2 separate regions of the Homo sapiens genome follow, and region 1 is linked to region 2. A link means that fine-mapping ties the variant in region 2 to the expression of a gene that starts in the linked region. Tissue or cell type: whole blood. Region 2 holds a variant in brackets; the other region holds the start of a gene. All regions are shown on one strand. Distances are between the middles of the regions.

The links. PIP is the estimated chance that this variant, and not a neighbour inherited with it, causes the effect.
Region 1: it holds the start of LFNG, and the variant in region 2 is fine-mapped to the expression of LFNG in whole blood (TOPMed, PIP above 0.99).

What each region holds. Positions count from the first base shown.
Region 1 is chr7:2,516,074-2,524,234 of GRCh38, reverse strand. LFNG (LFNG O-fucosylpeptide 3-beta-N-acetylglucosaminyltransferase) reads right to left here and starts at 4,461. Exons shown (of 8, transcript NM_001040167.2): 1 at 3,942-4,461. The coding sequence starts at 4,373. RefSeq lists enhancers at 746-1,258, 2,125-2,184, 2,225-2,354 and silencers at 4,286-4,395, 4,406-4,935.
Region 2 is chr7:2,494,994-2,503,168 of GRCh38, reverse strand. No RefSeq gene overlaps it. Among named protein-coding and RNA genes, the nearest start is that of LFNG, 21 kb to the left of the region's middle. RefSeq lists enhancers at 1,889-2,854, 2,855-3,821, 7,723-8,175. The variant G/A (reference allele first, on the strand shown) is at 4,819.

The DNA.
Region 1 (8,161 bases), 21 kb before region 2:
CGGCTGTGGGAAGCCAAGTCTCAATCACTCGGGGTTGGGGACAAAGGCCTTCGCTGGGCGGCTGCCAAGCCCTGGCGGACAAAGGGCCTGGAGGGAGGATGAATCACCAGGCATTGTCCGCCAGCTTTGTCCTGGGCTGGCGGGAGAGGGGCGCCGGGCCGGCCTTAACTCGGCCGAGTTAAGCAGAGTGGCCGCGCCGCCCATTACCATACAGCTGGCCTGGTTAACCGGGCCAGGCTGGGCATGAGGTCCCGCGCGTAGGGTGCAGCCACCAGCACTGCAGCCACCCCACAGCTGCCCTTTGGGCCAGCACCCCTGTCCTGGGTGACCTGCAGGACAAGCTACCCACTCTGAGCCAAAGCAGCCCTGAAGTTCTGCAAAGTTGCCAACGGTCAGCAGGGTTGTGGCAGGAAACCTCAGGTGTCCCCAGCCCCCAGGTCAGGGGCCCCCAGTACCCATGCAGCCCAGCACCCCTCCCACTGCTCAGGCAAGGAAACCCAGGCTTGCCCAAGGCCACAGCCCACCTGTGCCAGCACGCGGCCGCCCCCTGCCAGGAGCGCTCTGCGGAAGAGGAGGGGGCCGCCAGGGCGGGGCCAGGAGTCGCCGGCGCCCGCCTGGGCCTGCCGGCACACGGGGAGGAATGTTCCTTCCTCTGCCCGGCCCGCCCAGCGCGTGCCGCCCGGCGCACCCTGGCATGGCTGAGTGCAAAACCCAGGGTGTACGGGCAATGCTCTGACCAAGGGACAACCCCCTGATGCCCACCCAGCCTCAGTTTCCTTCCCTGTACACACAGGTCCCGCAGAGGCCCTGGAACACCTTGGTAGTCTCAGATCCTTATCCAGCCTGACCCAGCCCTGGGCACATGCTCACTAGGGTGAGGCCCAGAGCTAAGGGGGTGGCAGGCTGGGTCTCCGCCTCTCCATGCATGCACCCCTCCTGCAGCACCCATAGACACCCCAGGGCAGCCACACGCACAGACTCGCACCCAGCCCCTTGGCCTCCCCAGAATCTCAGCCCAGGAATGCCGTGGGAGGCGGAGGGCCAGCCCCTGCAGACGCTCCACTGCGCCGCTGGGTTAAAAGGAAAATGCTTTCTTAATGAGATCAAGGGAGGCCTGTTCTCCCGAGATTTGGTGGTGCCCTAAAAACCCAGCCCAAGGCTACGGAGATTAAAGTCACCTTTGTTCAGCTCAGGGAGCAGGGAGGCCTCTAGAACAGCATCTGAGAAGGCGGGGCTATGGGGTGCGGGGGTGCCGGTCGAACTGTCTCCCGACACCTGAGCCACCAGGAGGGGAGGAAAAAGGCGCTGCTGGGCTATAGGCCTCACCTGCCGCTCAGAGCCTCAGTCTCGTCTTCAGTAAAATGGGCATAACAGAGCTCCCCTGGGCAGAGAACAAAGTGCAAAGACAGATTCTCTCCCTTCCTCTCCCTGACAGCCCTCGGAGGTGGGTGCCATTACCAGCTGAGGCCCAAGTGGGGAAACTGAGGCCCAGAGAGGTGCAGGCACCAGCCTGAGGTCATACCCTGGGGCCGAGGCGGTGCTAGACCAGCCCAGTCCCTGCCTTCTAGGGACCCAGACCCCCCAGTGCCACCTAACTTTCCAGACGAAGACGGGGCTGCAGGAGGAAGAGCCGGGTGGATGAGGGTGGACGGGGGCGGGGGCCGGGGGACACCCACAGGAAGCAGCATTGTTCCTGGAGCCGCGATTCAAAGAAACACAGGATGCCAAGTTCTCCCCAGCAATTGTGGCCGCTGTGGTGGCAGCGCGGCAGCCTGGCTGCTCCTGGGAGGGGCGGGGAACCTCTGGGCCAAAGGCCAGGCTCTTCATCCTGGACTCCAGGCCCATCTCAGCGCGGCCCCTGCTGACCAACCGACCCTCCCCCCAGCCACCACTCCAGTTGCTAGAAGTTTCCTGCACAACCCCCATGCTGTGGTCATCACCATGCCCGGATGGAGTGCCCTTTCTGGGCACTTTTTTACTCTTAGTCTAGCTCAAATGGCGCCTCCTCCAGGAAGTCTTCCCTCCTCCCTCCCTTCCCCCAGCATGTGGGTCAGATGCCCACTGTTGCCTCACACAGCCTCTCGGGGTTTTCCCCCCGCACAGCCCTGACATCTTTCTATCTCCCCCATCAGACCATGTCTGAGTCATTCCGTGCAGGGCTGGGAGAGGGGGGCCCTCTTCTGTGGGTTTCCAGGACCCCTGCCCATCACCCACCACAAGGGGGTCTTTGCTTGCTGTGTGCTGGTGAACTGATGCTGAGGGCAGATTCAACCTGTCCCCTGGTGGGGTGACCCTCCAGTAGGGACCTCAGGGCTCAAGGGAGTGATGGCCCCCACCTCGACCCTGAGTGCCCGCCGGGTTCACCCCATGCCTGCAGGCTTTGCCAGTCTCTTACAACGTGCTCCTGGAAGGACCATGTTCCCCCATTTCAGAGATCAGAGTGAGGGTCTGAGAGGCCCCAGGTCTTGCTCAGGATCACACAGCCCAGCCCTCTGACCACATCCCCTCTGTTGGAGAAAGGCCCCAAATTCCAAGATGAGAGGTGCTCAGAGCTGGTGGTAGCCCAGAGTGGGGCTGAAGGATGCCCAAGATCACATAGCAGTAAGGCTTGAGTGCTGGGGGTGGGGGGGCCAGGCTCAGGGATGGTGCCCCAAAAGGACTGTCAGTAAGAGATGCTGGGGGGGCCCGCTGGTCCCCTCATCGCCAGGCAACCTGAGTGGCCAGCACGCCAGCAGCGGTTCCCACGGAGCGCGTAGCTGCACACAAGGGGCCCGACGCCTTTCTCGCTGGAGAAAGGGGCTTTGTTACCTTGCCCAAGGGGCCGGCGTGAGAGCCGCCCGGCGCTGGGAATCCTAACGGCCCGGCCGCCAAACAAAACCCACGGCCCCCGCCGCCCCCTCCCGCCAGCCCGCTGAGCCCCTGGGAATGGGACGCTGTGTTCCCAGGAGGCTGCCATGGGGTTCCCAGGGCCCCTTCCCCACGCCAGGACCAGGGAGGACCCTGCCCCTCCCCGTCGCCCTCATGACCTCACCAAGCCCTGCTCCCACCCACCCACAGTGCCCCAAAACAGGACAGCGCCAGGTCAGAAGGCCCTGGGTCTCCGGGGTTTGAGCAGGGAGGAAGGCGTGCAGGGTCTTCCCTGAGCCCCCACCCTCACAGCAAATGCCTCTGCATCTCCCAGCCCAGAGACACCCCCCCAGTCCCCGACTGCAAGCCCCACACACTGTCCCCATCCCGCCCCAGCCCAACCGTCCTGCTGTGGCCTCGAGGGAAATGTTCAAAGTGGGGTGTGTCTTAATTATGTGTGTGTAAGAAGCTGATGCCCAACTGAAGTGGGCTGTGCCCAAGGTTGCAGGCCTCAGAGACTACTGCACTGTGCGGGGAGGGTCCCCACACAGACCCCAAAACCTGGAGTTCTTTGAGATGTACTCCCCAGGACCCACCAACCAGCAATGACTTCCCTCCCTCCCCGTACCTTAACACTGTGATGAGGAAAGGGCCCAGAGGTCAGAACCCCTCACTTCTCTAAAGGAAGAGCCTTTCTCCCCAGGAAGGGGTCTGAGCTGAGGGTGGGTCCGAACAGAATTTGCTTGTGGAAGTTTGAGGACATAATGCCCTATGAATGCGCTCCAATGTTTACGGGGTGAGAAGTATCACAGGGCACCAACCCCAAGCACTGGAGACTGGTGTAGGGTCCTGCAGCCATCCAGGACTCTGGAGCTGGACAGGAGGCGGGGCCCCGGGGACAGTAACACAACTGTAACGGGAGAGTGGCCCCAGCAGGCAAACTGGGTGCACCGGGGTGCACTGGCGTCGCCCACAGATGGCCCTAGTGGCTGGATGGGGATGCAGCCTGACTCCCATGGGACACTGCCACCAGCTGGACCAGATGGTGGGTCCCCGCCCCGCTCGCCCGCCAGTCCAGGCCGCGGGGGGCTCACCATCTCCTTGTGGCGCGAGATCCAGGTCTCCAGCAGCAGGTCGAGGCGCGCGCGGTGGAACTTTTTGGTGGTCTTGACAGCGATGAAGACGTCTCGGGGCGCGAGCGGCTCGGCCAGGGGGCGCGGGTGGCCGTCGGCGGGGCGGGGGGCAGCCCCGGGCGGCGGGCCCGCATCTCTGCGCGCGCGGGTGAGCAGGCTGAAGTACTCGGACAGACTGTGCACGTCGCGGACCAGCGCCCCGGGCGCCGCCGCCGCCGCCCCCAGCCCGGGCGCCGGGGCAGCCCCCGCGGGGCCCGCCAGGCTGCGCAGCGCGCGCCGGCCGCGCTCGGCGGGCAGTGGAGGCGGCGGCGGGTCGGCGGTGAGCACCAGCAGGCAGGCGAGCAGCGCGCCCGCCAGCGCCAGCAGCAGGCGCCGGCCGCAGCGCTTGAGCATGGTGGGGTGGCGGCCGCGCGGCGCGCCCTTCCCCGTGCGCCTGCCTTGCACCGACCCGAAGCCCGTCGCTCCGGCGGCGCAGTCCAGCAGCGCAGCACCAGTGTCCCGCGCTCTTAAACCTCCCCGCCCCGGTCCCGCCCCCGTGCGCTCATTGGCTCCCGGGCTCGGGGGCGGGGCCTCGCGCCGGTCGCCGCTCCACGCCCGCAGACCCACGTGGGGCCGCGGCTGGGGGCTGGGAACTGCCCAGAGGGCGCAGCGGCCCCGCCCCCGGCGCGCACGTGCACGCCCCGCACCCCCCCCGCCCCGGGTAGCCCCTGCGGGCCGCCGAGGGGCTTGGGGACGGGCCCGGCCCGCGCCGGTGTCCCTGAAGAGGAAACCCAGCCTGGCCAGCGCCGTCCGGGGATGCACCGGGCGTCCCGGCACGGGAGGGGCGCGCCCTCGGCGCAGCGGGCAGGGTGCTGAGACCCGGGCTCTGGGCTCCGACGCACCGCGGGGGACATCCTACTTCCTCGCTGTGCGCTTCCCCTCCTGAGCACGGCTTCCTCCCCTTGGGACGCGGCAGGCCTTGCAAACTGGGGTGGCGCCTGGGTCTTCCCGAGCGCTCGGTTCAGGGGAGCCGTTATTTGTACAGAGCAAGAGCTTGGCCACCTGTGCCGCAGGTGGGGACACGAGGTTCTAACGAGAAAGCACCAGAACCAAATTCCACTCCTTCCTCCCTGGCTGATTTCCTCGATCCTGGCCCTCCGTCGGGAGGGTTGGCTCCCCGAAATCCTCAGGCGCCCCATGGCGAGGAGAAACGAAGGCCGCCACTTCCCTCGCCGGATGAAAGGCCGCCTTCTGTCCCATTTGGTCTCCTTGCGCTCGGGCCAGATGCGGCCCAGCTGTGCGCCCTCCCCACCCCGCCTCCCCGGCACACGGCCCCCATCCCCGGCCCTTCCCACGGGCCCGGGCCCGCCCCTCGCACGAGCGGGGGCGGCAGGAATGCGCGCCGGCAGCCGAGGGTGAGGGGCGAGGGGCCCGGAAGTGGCCAAGGGTCGCCTGAGCAGGGTGTGAGCCCCCTGCCCGCCACGTCCTCCGGAAGCGTGGACGGAGGCGGCTCTGCCCGTGGCTGCGCTGTCTTCCCGTGCCCTCCTAAGCAGGGTCTCTGCGACCACCACGACCACCACCGCCACCACCGTGGCTAAACTGCCCCCCTCGGAGTTATGTTCACGCCTGAGATGGCATTTTAAATTCTTTAAGTGCCCTTGGAGCCCCTCTCCTTACCTCTACCTGAATGTCAGCCGCAAGACAGCAGCGACCTGGTGTCATTCAGACCTGGAACAGGTTTTGGGACATAGTAGGTGCTCTGAAAAAATTCACTGGATAAATGTCTGGCCCCACTGTCAGACCCTCTCCCCCCGCTAAGGACGCTGTAGCCCATTTGCTCTTAGGGCCCCAGGGGCCCCACCCCTAGCCCCTGTACCCGCTGGGTGGTGTGGGGGATGGGGGTTCCCAGGCCTCTTCCTGGCCCCAGGTAATTAGCAGTCACCACCTCCGAAAGCAGATGCCCCAGCAGATGGTGCTGGCTGTGCCCAAGTGACAAGTCTCCCATGGCGTCACCTCCTGCCATAAACCCCTTCCGATCAGCCAGAGCCTAGCCCTGGAGCCTCCATGCAGCTGGAGAGGCTTGAGGGTGAGCCGGGGAGAAAAGGACCCAGTGACTGGGTTGGCTGCCCCCACAAAGTCAGCTGAGTCCCAGCCCAGCCCCAGCCTCCGGACTGAGGGGTGTCCATGACCCCACGTGCTTCAGTCACACCGCTGACTTCAGGCTCTCCCATATCTGAATTGTTTCAGAGACGGAGCCTCATCCATCCCCATCATCTCTTCCCTGAATCACTTGGGCAGCCTCCACCCCCATCCCACCCACTCCTATCCTACCTGCTTTACTTATTCTCCACGCAGCAGCTGGACAACTAGGATCATAGCCACTCACACACCCACACAAAGAGCAAAACCCTCCATAGCTCTCCACTGGCTGAGTTAAAGTCCCGCCTGATATTCACGCACCTCGTGACTTAGTCCCAGCCCCGTTTCTTGAGGCCCAATCCCTCCTCAATCCCCTGCAGCCAAGCATGGCCAAGCCCCCAAATATGTGCACGGGTTGTGCTCTGTACCTGGACTTTACATCAGTGGCACCGATGGTGGGTGCCATGCCACCCTGCACCCCACCTGACAAGATGCTGTGAGTCCATCTCCCCACAGTTCCCAGGCCAGGGGATGGGGCTTCCTGCCCTGAGCCGCCCCACCCCCGCAACTCCTGCTCCCCAGCTACCCCTGACTGCGGTGCCTTTGACCCAGCAGGTCGTGGGAGCAATGTGCCCATTGTAGAGAAAGCAAGGGGGATATTGTACCAAGGGAGTGACCATACAGAGGTGGATGGCCCAGCCTGGCAGGGGCACATGCATAGAACTGGGTAGGGGGGGTTCCCGCGTCTCTCTGTAGCCAGGAATGGGAGGAGTGGGGGACCTGATGCTGCTGCCTGTCTGGAAGCAGCGGGAGGAAGCTTTACAGCATTCTTGTGGGGGCCGCAGGCTTTGGCAAGAGTGAATCAATTTCTTTGCTGTCAGGAGAATGGAATTTCGTGGTGACTTCTTGAGGTCTGAAAACTGTTGAGGGGGTGGCCCGCCTAGCCACCCCCGCCCGCTTCCCCAGGCTCAGCTTCAGCCTGAAACACTTCCCTCCCCATCCAGACCCCAGGTCTCCCTCTAGGGGCCCACTGGGCCACACAGCCCTGGTAGGGAAGTGGGCTGTGGGATGGTGCTCAGCCCTGGACAGGACAAAGGGGAGCTGGGGAGGGGGCTAGAGAGGGCTGACCGAGTTGCCAGTGAAGCCTCTTGGGGCCGTAGGGTCCTGGGGAAGAGGGGCTGGGGATAGAGGCTGCCCCAGGGCCCAGCCTGCCTTCCGAACCCAGAGGGGCCACTTCTCGGCTTTAAGACCTTGAACCGGTGGTGTTACTCCCTGAGCCTCAGTTTCCTCACTTGTAACACAAGGATGACATACCATCCAGACCAGGCAGGCCAGCTCTGGCCCTGGCGCATGGCTTCATGGGCTTCTTGGACCCTAGTCTTCCCCTCTGCAGGGCCCCTCCACCAGTCCCAGTTTGGGGCTCCCAGGCAGCTGGGTGTGCGAATGGCCCGAGAGACCTGCCTGCTGAGGTCAGGTGGAAAGCAGGCCCACGGAGCCAGGACCCACATGACCAGGGGCCCTACCCTCCTCCTCTAGCCGCCATCAGGCTGAGACAGTGTTCTGTCCCCATCTGAGTCCAGGCCTCCTCTAACTGCCAGGGCTCAGCCCGGGGGTTCTCCTGCTGGAGTCAGTGCCACCAGGTCCCCAAAGCCATGGGCTGGGTCTGCCCTTGACACTCAGGCCTAGAGGGGAAGGGCTCGGGGCTGGCTTTGAGGTGGCCATCTGCCTTCCCTCCCCCGGGCTGTTCCTTGGGGCTGCTCTGGCCTGCCTTCCTGCAGGGTCCTGGGAAGATCTGTGGAGACATAATGGGTGACCCATTAACTCGGCAGGAAGCCATCCGAGGCGCCTGTCCACTCATCGGCTGATGGAGAGCGGCCCCACTCAGTGTCTTGGGAACCAGCTTCCTCTGGGCCAGTAGCAGTGCCCAGAGATGGAAACTCCTGGACAGGACTCAGCATGGTGGTGGCTGTGGCTCGGGCAAGCCTGCACCTCCCTGTCCTCTCCTGACACAGACGCAGGAATGCCAACCCCCAGGCTGGGGCCAGGCATCAGAACTGGCAGTG
Region 2 (8,175 bases):
GCTGTCCCGGCCCCTGACCATCCCTCCCCAATGCGGGGTGTATGGGAGGCCTTGTTGCCAGACCTCCTGAGAAGCCCTAGAGGTGCCAAACCCCTCCTCAGCTCCTGTGGCAGATGGGGAAACTGAGGCTGACAGGAGCTTCCTCCTCCCACTCTGCCCAGAGGCCTCCGTGACCCTCCCCCCAGCTGGCCTCTCTCACCTCACACCCCCCATACCCCCAAATGACCTCCTCGCTCCCCCCATCTCCCGGGGTCCCGCCCAGCCAGCACACCCCCTACCACACACCCCCCACCCCAAATGACCTCCGTGTTCCGCCCACCTCCCGGGGTCCTAGCACCCTCACCTCATCTTGCACCTCCTGTCCCCTCACCCCAGCATTGCTCAGCGTCCCACCCCGATGGCCCCCACCTTCGGGACTGCCCCTGGCAGGGTGGGCTTCAGGGAGCCGAGAGCCCTGGTGGTGGCTCGTGGGAGGGGGCCTGGGCGTGGGTGTCTGGGCCACAGGAGTCCGAGAGCCATCCCGAGGGGAGAGGGCGTCAGTGAGACGTGGGCTGGGGCTGTTTCCCTCTAGCTGCAGGACCCGCAGGGTCAGTGTCAGCCTCTGCCTCCCCCAGGAGGCCTCAGCCTTTCCTCCTAAGACTCAGTTTACTCAGCTGCCAAATGGGACCATTTCTTGTCCTTCCAACCCCACGAAATTTCCATGAGACACCGAAGGGCAATAAAGGCTGTGGGCAACCCTCAGTACATGCCCAGCTGTGGGGAGGACAGGCTGGGACCCCCACTCCCCATGGCCAAGGGACAGGCTAGATCTCCCACAGCTACCTCCAGGGGACAGGCTGGGACCCAATGCCCCACCACCAGGGGACAGGCTGGGTCCCCCGCACCCCACCTCCAGGGGACAGGCTGGGCCCCCCACATCCCACCTCCAGGGGACAGGCTGGGCCCCCCACACCCCACCTCCAGGGGACAGGCTGGGTCCCTCTGCACCCCACCTTCCGGGGACAGGCTGGGCCCTTCTGCACCCCACCTTCAGGGGACAGGCTGGGTCCCTCTGCACCTCACTTCTAGGGGACAGGCTGGGCCCCTCTGCACTGCACCTTCAGGGGATGCTTGGGTATATAGGGCCTAGGCCCTGGCCAACAGCCACTCACCCACGGCCCAGCCAGGGAGCTGAGAGCTGAGAGCGAGCAGTCACCCACTGCACCCCAAGGCTGGGAGCCACCAGCAGGGGCAAAGCCCATTGAGCTATGGTTCCCGGCCGTCCAAGCCCAAGCCCAGATCTGGAAGCAAACACCCAAGGAGACACTTTCTCCCTGTCCGAACTGCCCAGATGGTGAGCTCCCTATTGGGAGGCAGGTAAGCAGAAGCTGGCAGGGGAGGAGGGCCGGGGAGCAAGCATGAAGTTGGAGTCCAGGCTAATTGGTGAACCTTAGATCACACCTCGGCCGGGAATTCCAGGATCCCGGGATCCTGTCTTCTGGGAACAGACGCTGCTGGAAGGAGGGAAGGTGGTCTCTGAGGTGAGATTCTGGGGCCAGGGAGGAGCTGGCTCAGGTGAGACCCCAAAGGTGGAGTCAGGTCAGCCCGGACCCCGGGGGTGACCAACCCTTTGACTGCTGTTGACCTCAGGCCATACCCCCTCTGCAGCTGAGAACCACTATCTTTCTCTTCTTTTTTTTTTTTTTTTTTTTTTTGAGATGGAGTCTCGCTCTGTCGCCCAGGCTGGAGTGCAGTGGCGTGATCTCGGCTCACTGCAAGCTCTGCCTTCCGGGTTCACGCCATTCTCCTGCCTCAGCCTCCCGAACAGCTGGGACTACAGGCGCCTGCCACCGCACCCAGCTAATTTTTTGTATTTTTAGTAGAGATGGGGTTTCACCGGTCTCTCATGATTCGCCTGCCTCAGCCTCCCAAAGTGCTGGGATTACAGGCGTGAGCCACCGCGCCCGGCCCTCTTTTTTTTTTTTTGAGACCGTTTCACTCTTGTTGCCCAGACTGGAGCTCAACGGCGTGATCTTGGCTCACTGCAACCTCCTTCTCCCAGGTTCAAGTGATTCTCCTGTCTCACCCTCTCGAGTAGCTGGGACTACAGGTGAGCACCACTACGCCCAGTTAATCTTTTGTATTTTTAGTAGAGATGGAGTTTCACCATGTTGGCCAGGCTAGTCTTTAACTCGTGACTTCAGATGATCCACCTCGGCTGAGGTCTCGGTCTCCTGACCTCATGATCCACCTGCCTCGGCTTCCCAAAGTGCTGGGATTACAGGCGTGAGTCACTGCGCCCAGCCGAGAGCTGCTATCTTTCACGCAGAGTGGCAGAGCCTGCCACAGGCCAGCCACATCCTGGGTGCTGCAGGCCTGCCCCCTGGATTAGGGTGGACAGCACGTGATTCTCATGGAGTGCTAGAAGGGACAGTGCCACAGGATGGGGGGGCCAGGCCTGCAGCCTCTCGGAGGAAGGAAGGGTCATTCCAGGGGAGACTTTCGGGGACGCGGGCTGGGGAAGAGCTCACCGCTCCCGACCCAAGGATGAGAAGACTGGAGTGAAGGCCCTGAGGGATGAGCCTGGCTCATTCCTGGAAGGGCTGGAGTGGAAAGGAGGGAGAATAAGGGGTGATAGTGACCAGGGTGCAGGAGAGAGCCAGGGCAGGGCCGGGGACCCTTCTCTCCTCAGGGAGAGGGGCTGACCACCTGGCAAACGCGCTTCCCACCACTGGAGTTCCCAGAGCGGGAGGGCCGGGGATGTGGGGACAGTGGCGGGGACAAAGCGCCGGGGCCGAGGGGCTGGGGACCACGGGGGCTGGATTTATGACCTCCCCTGACCCCGGCAGAGAAACCAGCCTTGTTGGGCATGGCCAAGTCACCAGCGACCAGCCCGGGGGTGGGACAGCCGGGATGAGAGGCCCAGAGAAGGGATTAGCCGCGGCCCAAAGGGCCACGCAGGGCACCATGGCAACCGCGAGACTGGGCCCGGAGAATGGGGCCTGAGTTAACACCCCAATGGGGCTGGAGGCTTGTTAAGCAGCTTACCAGGCGGGCCTGCCTCGCCATTGACATGGAAATCCAGGCCCTCCGTTCCTAGCCCTGAAAGGCCTGTCCCACTCTGAAAGAAGGGAGCCAGGAGGGGGGTTTCCAGGGTGGGTGGGGTGGCCAGGGGGCCAGGTGCTGGGCCGGAACAAGAACCAGCTTCCACCTTCCTCCCCAACCCTCTCGGCACCCCTGCAGGTCGGAACGGAATGTCCAGGACCCACGTAGACTCAGACCCTGAGTGGGAGGGCCTGCGTGTTACCTGGTCTGACTCCCAGGCTTGAGAGGGGCTGAGTGTTACCTGGCTTGGCTACCACTAAACAGGGGTCCAGGGTGGGGCGTCGCTGGGGGCAGTCCTCATTGTGGACGTGCTCTGGCCAGGGGTTGCATTTCCTAAGTGGATGAGCTGGCTCAAGTCAGGCTTGTGGGCCACAGCGTAGGGCAGGGGAAGGTCACCTGGATAGACAGAGCAGGGATCCCAGCATGGGAAGAAGCTAGCACCCCCGAGGCTCGCCTGACCCCTGTCCTCATTCCCAGCTGATCCCAGCTCCAACTACAACTCTAAGCTCCAGTTCCTCCAAGGGCTTGTCTCCAGACGTGACCCATGTCCGCATCAGGAGATTGTCCCAGAGCTAGCCTCAGCCATGTGGGCACTGGGCCCTCCTGTCTCACAGACCCCGGTCCTGGCTCCTTCCACAGGGCCCTGGCCTCCAGCTCTGCCTGCCCCGTTCACCATTCCCCCAGCCTCCACCCACCAGGTCCTGCCCACCTGACCTGGCCACCCCGGAGCTCAGCCCTGGGACCCTCTGCCCCAGCAGTAGACCCCTTCCCAAGACCTCTTGCCATCCCTCCTCTGCGGCTCAGCACCAAGTGGGGGCCTCAGCCTCCCTGACCCAGCCCCATGATGCTGCTTCAGACACCACCACATCTCCAGCCCCAATTGTCCAGAAAATTCACTCGTGTGATTTGCCACAGTGCCCAGCCCATTCCCAGGCCTGGACCCGTGGCAGGACAGTGAGTGGGGGCAGCGGCAGGCCTGGCCTTTGAGACCAGGCTGTGAAGTCTGTGCTTCAGATGGGGCAGGGGTGGGGAGACAGCACCCCCACCCCAGTGTGGGAGGCCCAGACTCCAGCCAAGTGGGGAAAGCCCCTTGGAAGCCGAGATGTGCCGGAATGCGGGGCAGGCCTGAGGGGGTGGCAAGGAGCTGAGCAGGTGTCTAAACCCCTGTTGACATGGGATTACAGCCATCTGGCAGCCCCTCCCCACACAGCCCCCACTCCGGGCTCTGGGCAGGAACCAGGGAGCTGAGACGGGGCAGCTCTGGGCAGGGCCTCAGTCTCCCTGCCTGAAGAGTAGGGTATACTTGAGGGAGTGCAGAGCTCCAGGGTAGGGATGGGGGCAAAGGCAGGCTCTCCATGGGACCTCCGGGTGGGCTCTGCCCTGTCCCACTAAGGGACTCGATGAGGCCCGCACGTGAGAAAGGAGCTTTGGGAGGTTGGCCAGCTAGGAGGTGAGATCACAGCCCTTTGCTGGGGGCCAGGGCCCTTGTGAGGAAACTGAGGCTCAAGAGTGGAGGCTGAGCAGCTTCTTGCTCCTGCCTCCCCTACCCTGGGTACCCCATACCCTAACCTGGCCTCGACCTCTCCAGCTTCAGGATCCTGTTCTTCCTGGAGGTTGTGTGCAGCTTGGAGCTCGTGAGGGGCTACTGTGATCACAGGGTGCGCTAGGCGGTCCTCCAAGCAGGGAGCTGCATCTACGCAGCACCCTCCAGCCTTTACTGGGGTGGTGACACCC[G/A]GGCTTGGGGGCCACCCTTGTCACTTCTTGTAGCACCGGCCTGCAGCCCCTGGGATGAGCATCCCAGCAGCTCACAAACAGTCCTGATGAGGAAGCAGCCGGGCCCGGGGTCCACCCCCCCATGGTGTTGGGTTTCCTCCGGGCATGGCCCCAGCTGCACGCAGCTGGCAGAGGTTATGGGGCTGGGAACTTGAGAAGGTTGTGTCCCCCTCAACTCTGGGGGAGGGGCCATAGGCACCCATCAGAGCCGGGGCTGGCTGGCCTCCCCCTCCATCCTCAGCGCCCCCAGCCTGCCATCTGCCTCTGTCTCTCGGGGAAGAGGAGGGGCCGCCCGCATTCCTGCACACGCTGCCCCTCCCTACATCTGGCCCTTCCCACGCCCCCTCCTTCCCCAGCAGACCCTGGGGCCCCCTCCCCATCCCAAACCCGCTTTGACAGGTCACATGGGCACCGGGCCCCACCCCGGCAGGGTCTGGGGACCCTGTCCATGCCCGTCACCCCCTGTTCCTCCTGTGGGTGACTCCCTCAGCCCTTTGACAAATTTTCCCGAGGCTTCCTGTGCGCCTGGTGGCCCCAGACCCTCCTGTGTACTGGGAGCAGGGCCCCCCCGACCTGGGAAGGAACGCCCTGTCCATGGCTGCCCCCAGCTCCTGGACACCCACGAGCGTCTGACTCAACTGGGTACCCCCCACTCCTCATGCAGGGATTGGGGGCTTTAGGGCCAGGGAAGGTGGAGGGAGGAAGAGGGCAGTGCGGCAGGGCTGGTCAGATGGGCAGCTCTGTCCCCATCCTGCACTCCGGGCAGCACAGATTGCTTCTGGGTAGAGGCCAGGCTGGCCGGCTCTTCTCCCTGCAGGTCCGGGATGCAATCACAGCAGAGTAAGGAGGTCTGCCCCTCATCCCATCAGGGGTACCTGGGTGGGACCTGGGAGACCATGGGCTAGAGACCAGGGGAGAGGGTCCCAGAGGAAAGCACAGACACCTCAGGCTGAGGCCAAGCTGCAATGCTTGTTCTCACTGATCCTCAGAGCCTCTCCTGGAGGAGAGGGTACTGAAAATCAGGCCATAGCAGGATGCATAGGAGTCCACCAGGTAGAGAGGGGCGTGCAGAACTCATTGTCATTTCTAAACTCCTATGTGGGCCTGAGAGTTGTGCTCAGACCCCCTTGGGCACTTCATCAATGTACTCAACATTTATTGAGCACTTGGCTGGGTGCGGTGGCCCATGCCTGTAATCCCGGCACTTTGGGAGGCTGAGGTGGGTTTGGATTGCTTGAGCTCAGGAATTTGAGACCAACCTGGCCAACATGGCGAAACCCTGTCTCTACTAAAAATACAAAAAATTAGCCAGGCGTGGTGGTGCGTGCCTGTAATCCCAGCTACTTGGGAGGCTGAGGCAGGAGAATCTCTTGAACCTGGGAGGTGGAGGTTGCAGTGAGCCGAGATCACACCACTGCACTCCAGCCCAGGCGACAGAGTGACTCTGTCTCAAAACAAACAAACAAACAGACAGACAAACAAAAAATGTACTGAGCACCTGCTGTGTGCTGGGCCCGGTGCTGGTCACAGGGACGGTGGGTAGTCCACACAAGACTGCCCTCCACCCCTCGACAGAGGAAACTTCTGGCAGCTGGCTGTGCGGCCCAGTGGTGATGGGAGACAGAAGAGGCCTGGGCTTGCTGGAGGCAAGGTTCGTAAGTGGAAGCTTACCAGGCGTGGGGGAGGCAGGATGTGCAAAGGCCCTGTGGCCAGGATGCTGACAGAGGATGGGACAAGAGGCCAGTGTGGAGCCAAGGTGGGGGCGGGGACACCTAGTCTGGGAGACCTGGGGCCACACCACACCCCTGTGAGTAGAGCGTGGCATGATGCAGTTTGCAGGGGGGTGCTCCCCACCTCAGGCACCCAGCCATGAGAACCTAGAGCCGAGCTTGACTTAAGATGAGCCGGTTTGACGCTTTGGCTAAGGGGACAGAGGGGCACACACGGAATATTCCAGGGGCTGTGTTTGTGCAGGAGCAGAGGTGGGCACACAGGGGCCCAGGACACACAGTCACATACAAAGACCCACCTCTAGAGACGCACAGAGACAGGGACCCGGTGGACTGCATGCACCAGCAGCCTGTTTACCTCCTAACCCTCCCTCCTGCTGCCTCTGCATCCCCCTCATCCCCCCTCCCCCAACACACACAACAGCCGCCAGGCGGGTCCCCTTTCTCTGGCTCTTCAGCAAAGCAGTTGCTCGAGACTAATTGAATTTTCCGCCTGGGAAGGGCTGGGGAGTTGAAGGCGGGTGAGGCTGGGAAGAAGCTTGTTAACAGGTCTGGCCCTCCCCACACCCCCCAGGCCCCCTCCACGGCACCCCGCCCCACTCCCTCCCCACAGGGCCTCCTCTCTGCAGTGGGGGTGGGGTGGTCAGGGGCCCTGGTGGCCGTGGAACAATGGACAGACAGACAGGACCAGCCCACACCCTGCCAGCGCCTGAGGGGCCGTGCTCCAGAGGAGGCTAGAGTGACCTTCTGGGCCTCAATTTCCCCTCCTGACCCAAAGAGAATTGGGAGAATTGGGATTGGGGTGGGAGTCCCGGCTCATAAACAGACTCACCCGACTGTAGGTGTTCGGGGGGCCACCCCTGGAGATGTGGGAGCCCCACCCACTGACCAGATGGCAAGACTGAGGGCCGGGCAGGCACAGGGCTGGGCCTGGGGGCTCAGCGAGGCTGTGCATGGTGGCGGGGGATGAGGAGCCACTACGCCCAGTGTTCAGCCCCACGTGCTGCTCCTGGCCCTGCCCATATTTATGGTTTGAGCGGTGGTGCACACGTGTGCGGGGTGTGCATGACAGGAGGCTGACGGAGGAGCAGCCAGTGGGCAGGCGACCCCCTGCCTCCACCCCTGCCTCCAGCCACCAGCCTCTCTCCTTTTCTTTTTTTTTTTTTTTTTGAGATAGAATTTCGCTCTTGTCACCTGGGCTTGAGTGCAGTAGCAAGATCTCGGCTCACTGCAACCTCCACCTCCCAGGTTCAAGTGATTCTCCTGCCTCAGCCTCCCGAGTAGCTGCTGGGACTACAGGCATGCGCCACCATGACCGGCTAATTTTTGTATTTTTAGTAGAGACGGGGTTTTACCATGTTGGCGTGTCTCGAGCTCCCGACCTCAAGTGATCTGCCCACCTTGGCCTCCCAAATTGCTGGGATGACAGGCGTGAGCCACCGGGCCCGGCCCCCCTCTCCTTTTCTCGACCCCAGTCCCCACACCACTTGGACCGCGAATGCTCAGATGTCACCCAGCCTGGAGGCCCCTCACAGGTGCAGTGGAGGGGATGGCGAGAACAAGGGACTCGGGGGCAGGGACAAGAGCA